Linked DNA regions of Homo sapiens: region 2 is reported to be linked to region 1. The links are microRNA targets in miRTarBase. Many come from high-throughput screens and were not tested one by one. Region 1 holds a microRNA gene; the other region holds the end of a gene's coding sequence.

What was found. Region 1 holds the annotated microRNA hsa-miR-6892-3p (UCCCUCUCCCACCCCUUGCAG, at 1,472-1,492, opposite strand). A microRNA usually pairs through its seed, bases 2 to 8, with sites in the 3' UTR of a target mRNA and lowers its output. Matches are read on the target gene's strand: a 7mer-m8 pairs with bases 2 to 8, a 7mer-A1 pairs with bases 2 to 7 and ends in A, and an 8mer does both.
Region 2: miRTarBase lists TRIM35 as a target of hsa-miR-6892-3p. Seed matches in the 3' UTR shown: 7mer-m8 at 1,626-1,632 and 8mer at 1,666-1,673.

What each region holds. Positions count from the first base shown.
Region 1 is chr7:143,380,875-143,384,271 of GRCh38, reverse strand. MIR6892 (microRNA 6892) reads right to left here and starts at 1,586; the gene lies at 1,472-1,586. ZYX (zyxin) reads right to left here and starts at 2,927. Exons shown (of 10, transcript NM_003461.5): 1 at 2,863-2,927; 2 at 2,493-2,715; 3 at 1,825-2,024; 4 at 1,587-1,679; 5 at 950-1,471. The coding sequence starts at 2,700. FAM131B-AS2 (FAM131B antisense RNA 2) reads left to right here and starts at 3,247. Exons shown (of 2, transcript NR_161353.1): 1 at 3,247-3,397. It also overlaps a transcript of FAM131B not described here. RefSeq lists silencers at 2,408-2,457, 2,488-3,397 and an enhancer at 3,231-3,397.
Region 2 is chr8:27,284,633-27,288,029 of GRCh38, reverse strand. It overlaps TRIM35 (tripartite motif containing 35), which reads left to right. Exons shown (of 6, transcript NM_171982.5): 6 at 1-3,144. The coding sequence ends at 480. Among named protein-coding and RNA genes, the nearest start is that of TRIM35, 25 kb to the left of the region's middle.

The DNA of each region.
Region 1 (3,397 bases):
CCCTGGTCTGAGTGCCTGTGACTCACAGGATTCTGCAAAGCTCACTGGCCCTTGGCATTTCTTCCTATGCTGTGTCCGAGTGTAGGTAGACATCAACACTATCAGTGGACTCTGGATGCTTGGACTAGATGACCATCAGGGTCATCTTCGTCACCAGAAATTGGACGATCTTATTTCCTGAACTAGAAGGCAAGAACCATTTTGTAATTACAGCTTTTCTATTTTGAGCATTCCTGTACTAGATACAGAACCCAACACTCTCTAGGTATTAGCTCACCCAATCTTCACAACCACTGTATGGAGTAGAGAATGTTAAAGATTGAGAAACTGAGGCTCAGGGTTCACCTAACTTGCCCAGTCTAAGGACTTGGGAGAAGCTGAGCCAAGAATTCCATTCCAGGTCCATCTGACACCTGAAGGCTGAGCTTCTTGCAGAGATCTCTTCCCTCCCATGTCCTACCCTCCTGGGCACAGAGCACAGTGCCTGGCACGTGGTGGATGCTGGCTCAACCAGTGTTTACTGGGGCTGTCTCTTACCTCCAAGCCCTCAGGCAGAAAGAGTGCTCAGAGGAGCAGGGAGATTAACTCAAGACCCAAGAATGGGAAAAACCAAGGTGGAACTGGTGATCTCATCCCTCCCTTTAACTTTCTGGGGTAAAGGCACAAGGAAAGGTCCACCAGATCCTCCTAATTCAGAGCCCATGCTCTCTGCGCCGTCCCAGCCAGGCCCCACCCAGCCCCACACCCAGCCAGGCCTCTCCTCCAGAGGAGCATTTTCCTACCATTGTTCCACCAGGCTAACCCCAGAGGATGAAAATTCCTATCCCGCCACCCCGCAACCCCCGTGTCCACCCTGACTCTCCAATCACCTTATGCTTATGCTCTGGCTCCTGACCCAGCCCCGCCCCAGTGCCCTGGTACCAAGCCTTGTCCTATCACCATCCCTCACCTGGTTTTGGTTCTGAGCCGGTGGGGGCACGGGGTGCTGCTTCTCCTGCACTCGGGGCTTCTCCCTCTGCTGGGCATAGGTGAAGCTGGGAGGTTGAGGGGAGCCTGTGCCAGCAGAAAGAGCTTCGGGGTGCCCCAATTTTTGATTTGGTTGTGACCCAGATCCACCTGGGGCTCCAGGACTGAACTTGGAAGCCACAGGAGTAAACTTAGGAGTCACTGGAGAAAACTTAGGGGCTGGAGCCGGAGATGAGGCTGGGGGCCCTCGGGGCTGGGTGTTAGCCAAAGACACAGGCTGGGTCTGGGACTGGACATGGAGTTGGACCTGAGGCTTGGGCTGGGGCTGGGGCTGAACATGGAACTGTGTCTGGCTCTGAGCCGGAGCCGGAACCTGGGGCAGAGGCTGGGAGCTGGAAGGGGACTTCCAAGGAGGCAGGGGTGCTGTGCCCCCGGCTGCAGGCTTGGTACTGGACTTGGAACTGAATGGAGTGGCCACTGGTGGGGGCACATATCCAGATGACACCTGCAAGGGGTGGGAGAGGGAAGAGAGATGCAGTCAGGAGGACACCATCCTCCTTAGTTCTATGCCCAGTCTCTCTGGCCCTGAGCCCTGCTTTTCCTACTCTCCGGTCCCTTACCCGGGCTTTGAAAGGATCATTCTTGGTCATGTCATCCAGCAGTGAGGACAGAGAGTCGATCTCCAAATCAATACTGCTCACCTTCTCCCTGGGCTAGAGGGTCAGAGGTCAGAGCACCTATTCCATGCCTCTATCCCCCCACCCCCAAGGCAGAGGTGCAGGGGAGGTAAGAAGAAAGGGCCCTCTTCTCCTCTCCTTGGGGGTGTCCAGTGCAGCCGCCCCTCCCAGGCCTCCGTACCTGTGGTGGGGGCGGTATGGGGGCCTCAGGCCCTCCCTCCTCCTCCGGAGGAGGCGGCGGGGAAGGGAAGATCTCCTCCTCCAGAGGCGCAGGGGGAAATGATTCCTCGATCGGGGGAGGGGGCGGCGGGAAGGCACCTCCCAGAGCACCCTCTGCATCGTCGCCATCCCCAGCAAGGGGAGGTGGAGGCAGGGGAAAGTCTGGGGTAGGAAGGAGAAAGACGTCGGCCGGGGTCCCTCTACCCCTCACCCAAGCTCCCCTCAGTTAACCGCTCTAACCCCTAACCCAAGAACTCTCTCAGGGGTCCCAGAGCGTGTGGGGAAGCAAAGGAGGGGCGCAGGGCGCCCTGGGAGTACCAGGTCAGGAAAGGCCGGGCGCACTGCCGAGGAGTGGTGCAGCTCCCGTTACACTTCGGAAAACGGACCCGGAGGGGAAGATTCGTGCCCCACATTCCCGACTCCCACTCCCAGGCGGGGGACTTGGAACGGTCCCAGGAGCCCTGGCTCCCAGCCACGAGCTCCACGATGAGGTAAGAACATCTGCTCGGGACAGGGTGGCTGCGCCCAGCCCCCTCGGCAACAACCTTTCCAGACATCCCCAAATTCCCGAAACGACTGCCCCCCACCCCGGCTCCTGCCGGGGTACATTCCCCAAGCCCCGCCGCATACCTTCCGGGGGCGGCGGGGGAATCTCGCCCACCCGGCCCATCTGTGCGCGCTGGGCCCCGGGTGCCGGGGGAGGCTCGCTGTCCCCGGGCCGGAAGGGATTCACTTTGGGCTTTGGGGCCACCACAGGGCCGAACTTCTTCTGCGGGGCGTAAAAAGCCGGAGCCGAGACCGAAACGGAGATCGCGGGAGACGGGCGGGGGGCCGCCATGGCCGGGCCGGGCTGCTGGGGTGGGTCGCCGGGTTACGCAGCGCGGAGCCGGGCTCAGGAGCCCCAGGCGGTCCCAGCTCCCCTTGGTGACCCCCACTCGCCCCCTCCCGGCGCCCCGCGCCCCCTCCCCGTGGGGCCGCCCTGCCGCTCCCCGCGCCTCACCGCAGGCCGGAGCGTGCGCGCCGCGTCTCGGGTGGCCGCCTCGGCGCCGGGTCCGCAGACTCTGCGTCCCGGTCCGGAGCAGCCTCCAGCCGGGCGGGGAGGGACACACGGAAGGAGGAGGGAGGGAGAAGAGAGGGGGCGGGGAGAGAGCGGCGCCCAGACCATACAAGGAGCGGCCCGGAGAGGGGGCGGGGAGAGCGGGGAAGGGCGGACCAGGCAGGAAACTCCCCCAGGAAGGGGCCCTGATCCTGCCTCAGGCCGGAGGCTCCGCCGAGGTCCGCTCGCCCCCACCCCACTCACTGCCGCCCCCGCCGCCCCAGCCCGGCTCAGACCCCCACTCCCTGAGCACAGGCCTCTGATGTCATTTCCTGACCTGCCTCCCCCTCCCCGCCCGACCCGCGGGTGCCCGAGATCTGACTCACCGTCCCCCTCCGGGCTTAGCCGGCGGAGGTGGGGCGGGTGCCGCCGAGGTAGCCACGCAGCCCCTGTGCGCCTCCGGCCCGGCCCAGCGACCTCCTCTCGGGCCTGCCGTTAC
Region 2 (3,397 bases), not on the chromosome of region 1:
AACCCGGAACGCTTCTCCTCGGCGCCCTGCCTGCTGGGCTCCCGTGTCTTCTCACAGGGCTCGCACGCCTGGGAGGTGGCCCTTGGGGGGCTGCAGAGCTGGAGGGTGGGCGTGGTACGTGTGCGCCAGGACTCGGGCGCTGAGGGCCACTCACACAGCTGCTACCACGACACACGCTCGGGCTTCTGGTATGTCTGCCGCACGCAGGGCGTGGAGGGGGACCACTGCGTGACCTCGGACCCAGCCACGTCGCCCCTGGTCCTGGCCATCCCACGCCGCCTGCGTGTGGAGCTGGAGTGTGAGGAGGGCGAGCTGTCTTTCTATGACGCGGAGCGCCACTGCCACCTGTACACCTTCCACGCCCGCTTTGGGGAGGTTCGCCCCTACTTCTACCTGGGGGGTGCACGGGGCGCCGGGCCTCCAGAGCCTTTGCGCATCTGCCCCTTGCACATCAGTGTCAAGGAAGAACTGGATGGCTGAGCTGGCCCGGGGCTGCCCCGGTCTTGTGCCACAGCACTGTTTTCTTTCTGCCCTCTTCCTAATGCCCACACTGCTTGGGCACTATTGCGCCCCTGCCTCCTTGCCAGGCTCTTCCTCCTGTCCTGCCTGGTCCTTTTCCATGACTCCAGGCTGTGCCTCTCTCCATGTTTGGTCCCTTCTGTGCCCATGGTCAGGAGCTATTCGGGTGGCACCTCGCTGGCCAGGCTCTCCCGAGTCGTGGCACCTCCACAATGTGAATTTTCTGAATCCCTATTCCAGGATTTCTGGGAATAATGTTTACTTCTAGAATGGGCCTGTTGTAAACCATCTCATCGAGGTGTGGTAAAGCCATTGGATGAGGAGGGGACTGCCATGGAAAGGAGAGTTTGTTACTTACGGTTCTGAGAGGAGGGGCCACATAGGAAAGCCCCACGGTGGGTCAGAAGGCGGAAGGAGGGAGGGGAACGTGTGGGCAAGAGACTTCCTCTGGTTTCCTCAGGAGGAAATGGGCAAGGCAGAGTAAGCAGGGGAGACAGGTTTAAGGGTAGCTGGCTTGAGTAATTTCAGTGGCTCTCAGGATAGGGGCTGCCCTTTTTGTCTGATACCTGGCCCCGGGATAGTCAGGACAGGTGAATGTTGGCCTGGGGTGTGACAGCCCTGGGAGAGCCATGTGAAGGAGGCAGCTGGCGCCATCGCTCCGGATTAGTTGGTTTCCATAGGAAAGGCATGCTTTCAGCCAGATGCTTGCCATCTCTAGGGATTGGGGGATTGGCTAGCCTGGGAGGATCAGTCTGTCCAGGTCAGCGAGGCCCCAGATACCAGAGCATCAAGAGTACAGGAAATACAGTTAATGCAGGGCCTCTGTGTGGCTGGATCCTCCGTCTCCATCAGATCAGCTCTGATTGATCTATTCTTGCACGATTTCCTCTGAACACAGGGTTCCAGAGTACTTAAACACAACATTTTTTAAATCGTGATTTCGGCCTATTTCCTTGCCAGGCCTGTTTCCCCACCAGGAAATGAGATAGGAGGACTGGATGAGGATGTCCTGTTATAGTTGCTGTGGAGGAAGTTCCTCTGGTTAATTCTCATCAGCGTCTGCAGAAAAGAAGGAAAGAGGGCACCCTTTTCAGTTGGGAAGAAAGGAGAGGGGTGGCGCCATGGACGTGGCCCTAAACGCTGTGGGAGAGGGAAGAGGAGGCTGGGCCTCGCTGCCCTCTTGTCTCTGCTGACTTCAGCCTGGTCATGCTTGCTCTGCCACTTGCGATTTCATCCCTAATTTCTTCCTCCACCATGCCTGCAGACTTTTCCCTGGGCTTGTTTTTTCTCGCACATCTCTGAAGAGTTTTTAATCTTCAGCTCATCATGTCCCAGGAAGTGGCATCATAAAAGGAAATATTTTTTTTTCCTAGGAGCAGTGTTAAAATCTGGGTCACATTCCTGACCAAGGACAGCATCCTGCCTTCTGCCCATCCCCTTCAGTTCACAAAAGCTGACATTTTAAACAAATCATGACTCACACGTATTAATTGGTTATAAATATGTTGTGTACACTGGTTAGATAAAACTTAAGGCCACAAGGAGGGCCCAGGTAGGCGATGTCAGTGTGTGAAGGGGCTGGATTGGGCGTGGTGAGGATGTTGGCAAACCAGTGCATGCACCTGGTTGGAAGATGCTCAGCCTCACAAAAGCTCCAAGCCCTTTGGGAGCCAAAGTGTCTGAGAGTGTGACCCTCTCCTGTAAAGTATTTATCCCACCCATTAATATAATTTCTGTATAATAAACTTGACCTGAAATTATTTCATTCTTTATATTAAACTTTTAAAAATGTTTTTTATTTTCACCTTAGATATGGGAAGAGTTTTTTTTTTTTTTTTTTTTTTAACAGGATAACTTGAGCAGGCTAGGCCTCTTAAAAAAAAATTTGAGCTAAAACTCATTTTTCTTTTGGCATTTTCTTTTCAATGTTCTTATAAGCAAAGTTCATCCATGTTGTAGCATGTGTTCAACTTTATTTTTTCATCGGGTAATATTCCATTGTATGGAATGGTAGTACTACATTTTATTTATCATGCATCGATTGGTGGACATTTGGATCGTTTCTACTTCTTGACTATTATACATAATGCTGCTAGGAACTTTTGTGTATGAGTTTTTGTGTGGACATATGTTTTCATTTCTCTTTGGTATATGCCTGGGAGCAGATTTGCTGGATCATATGAAACTCTATTTAACCCTTGAGGGACTCCCAAACTGTTTTCCAATGTGGTGACACAATTTTATATCCCATCAACAGGGCATGAGGGTTCTGATGACTCCACATCCCTCAGTGCTTTTTATTATCTATCTTTTAACTTAGCCATCCTAGTAGGGGTAATGTGGCATCTCATTGTGATTTTGGTTTGCATTTCCCTGATGGCGAATGATATTGAGCATCTTTTCATGAGCTTATTGGCCATTTGCATATCTTCTTAGGACAGCTATCTTTAGATCACTTGCTCATTTTTTAATTGGGTTATTTGTCTTTTTATTATTGAGTTGTAAGAGTCCTTTTATAGCCTGGCACAAGTCCCTTTAACTGGTATATGATTATAAAATTTTTCTCCGTGAGCTGTTTCATTTCCTTGATGATGTCCTTTGAAATACTAAAGCTTTTAATTTTGATGATGTCCAATTTTTATTTATTTTTTCTTTTGTTGTACATGTATCCTAGAAATCTCACTTTTGATACTGCCCTTAGGTCCATGTAAGTTCGGGGTTTTGGCTCAGGGATGGGGCAGTTATTCTGTTGGCAGGAAGCGCTAGTCCACGAGTTCATTAATTCTTCCCTGAAGCCCCTCTCCTGCCCTTGCCTTCCACTCACCCCGTCACTCTCCTTCTCATTACTGTGTCCAGGCTCAAAGCAGCAGCTCTCTGG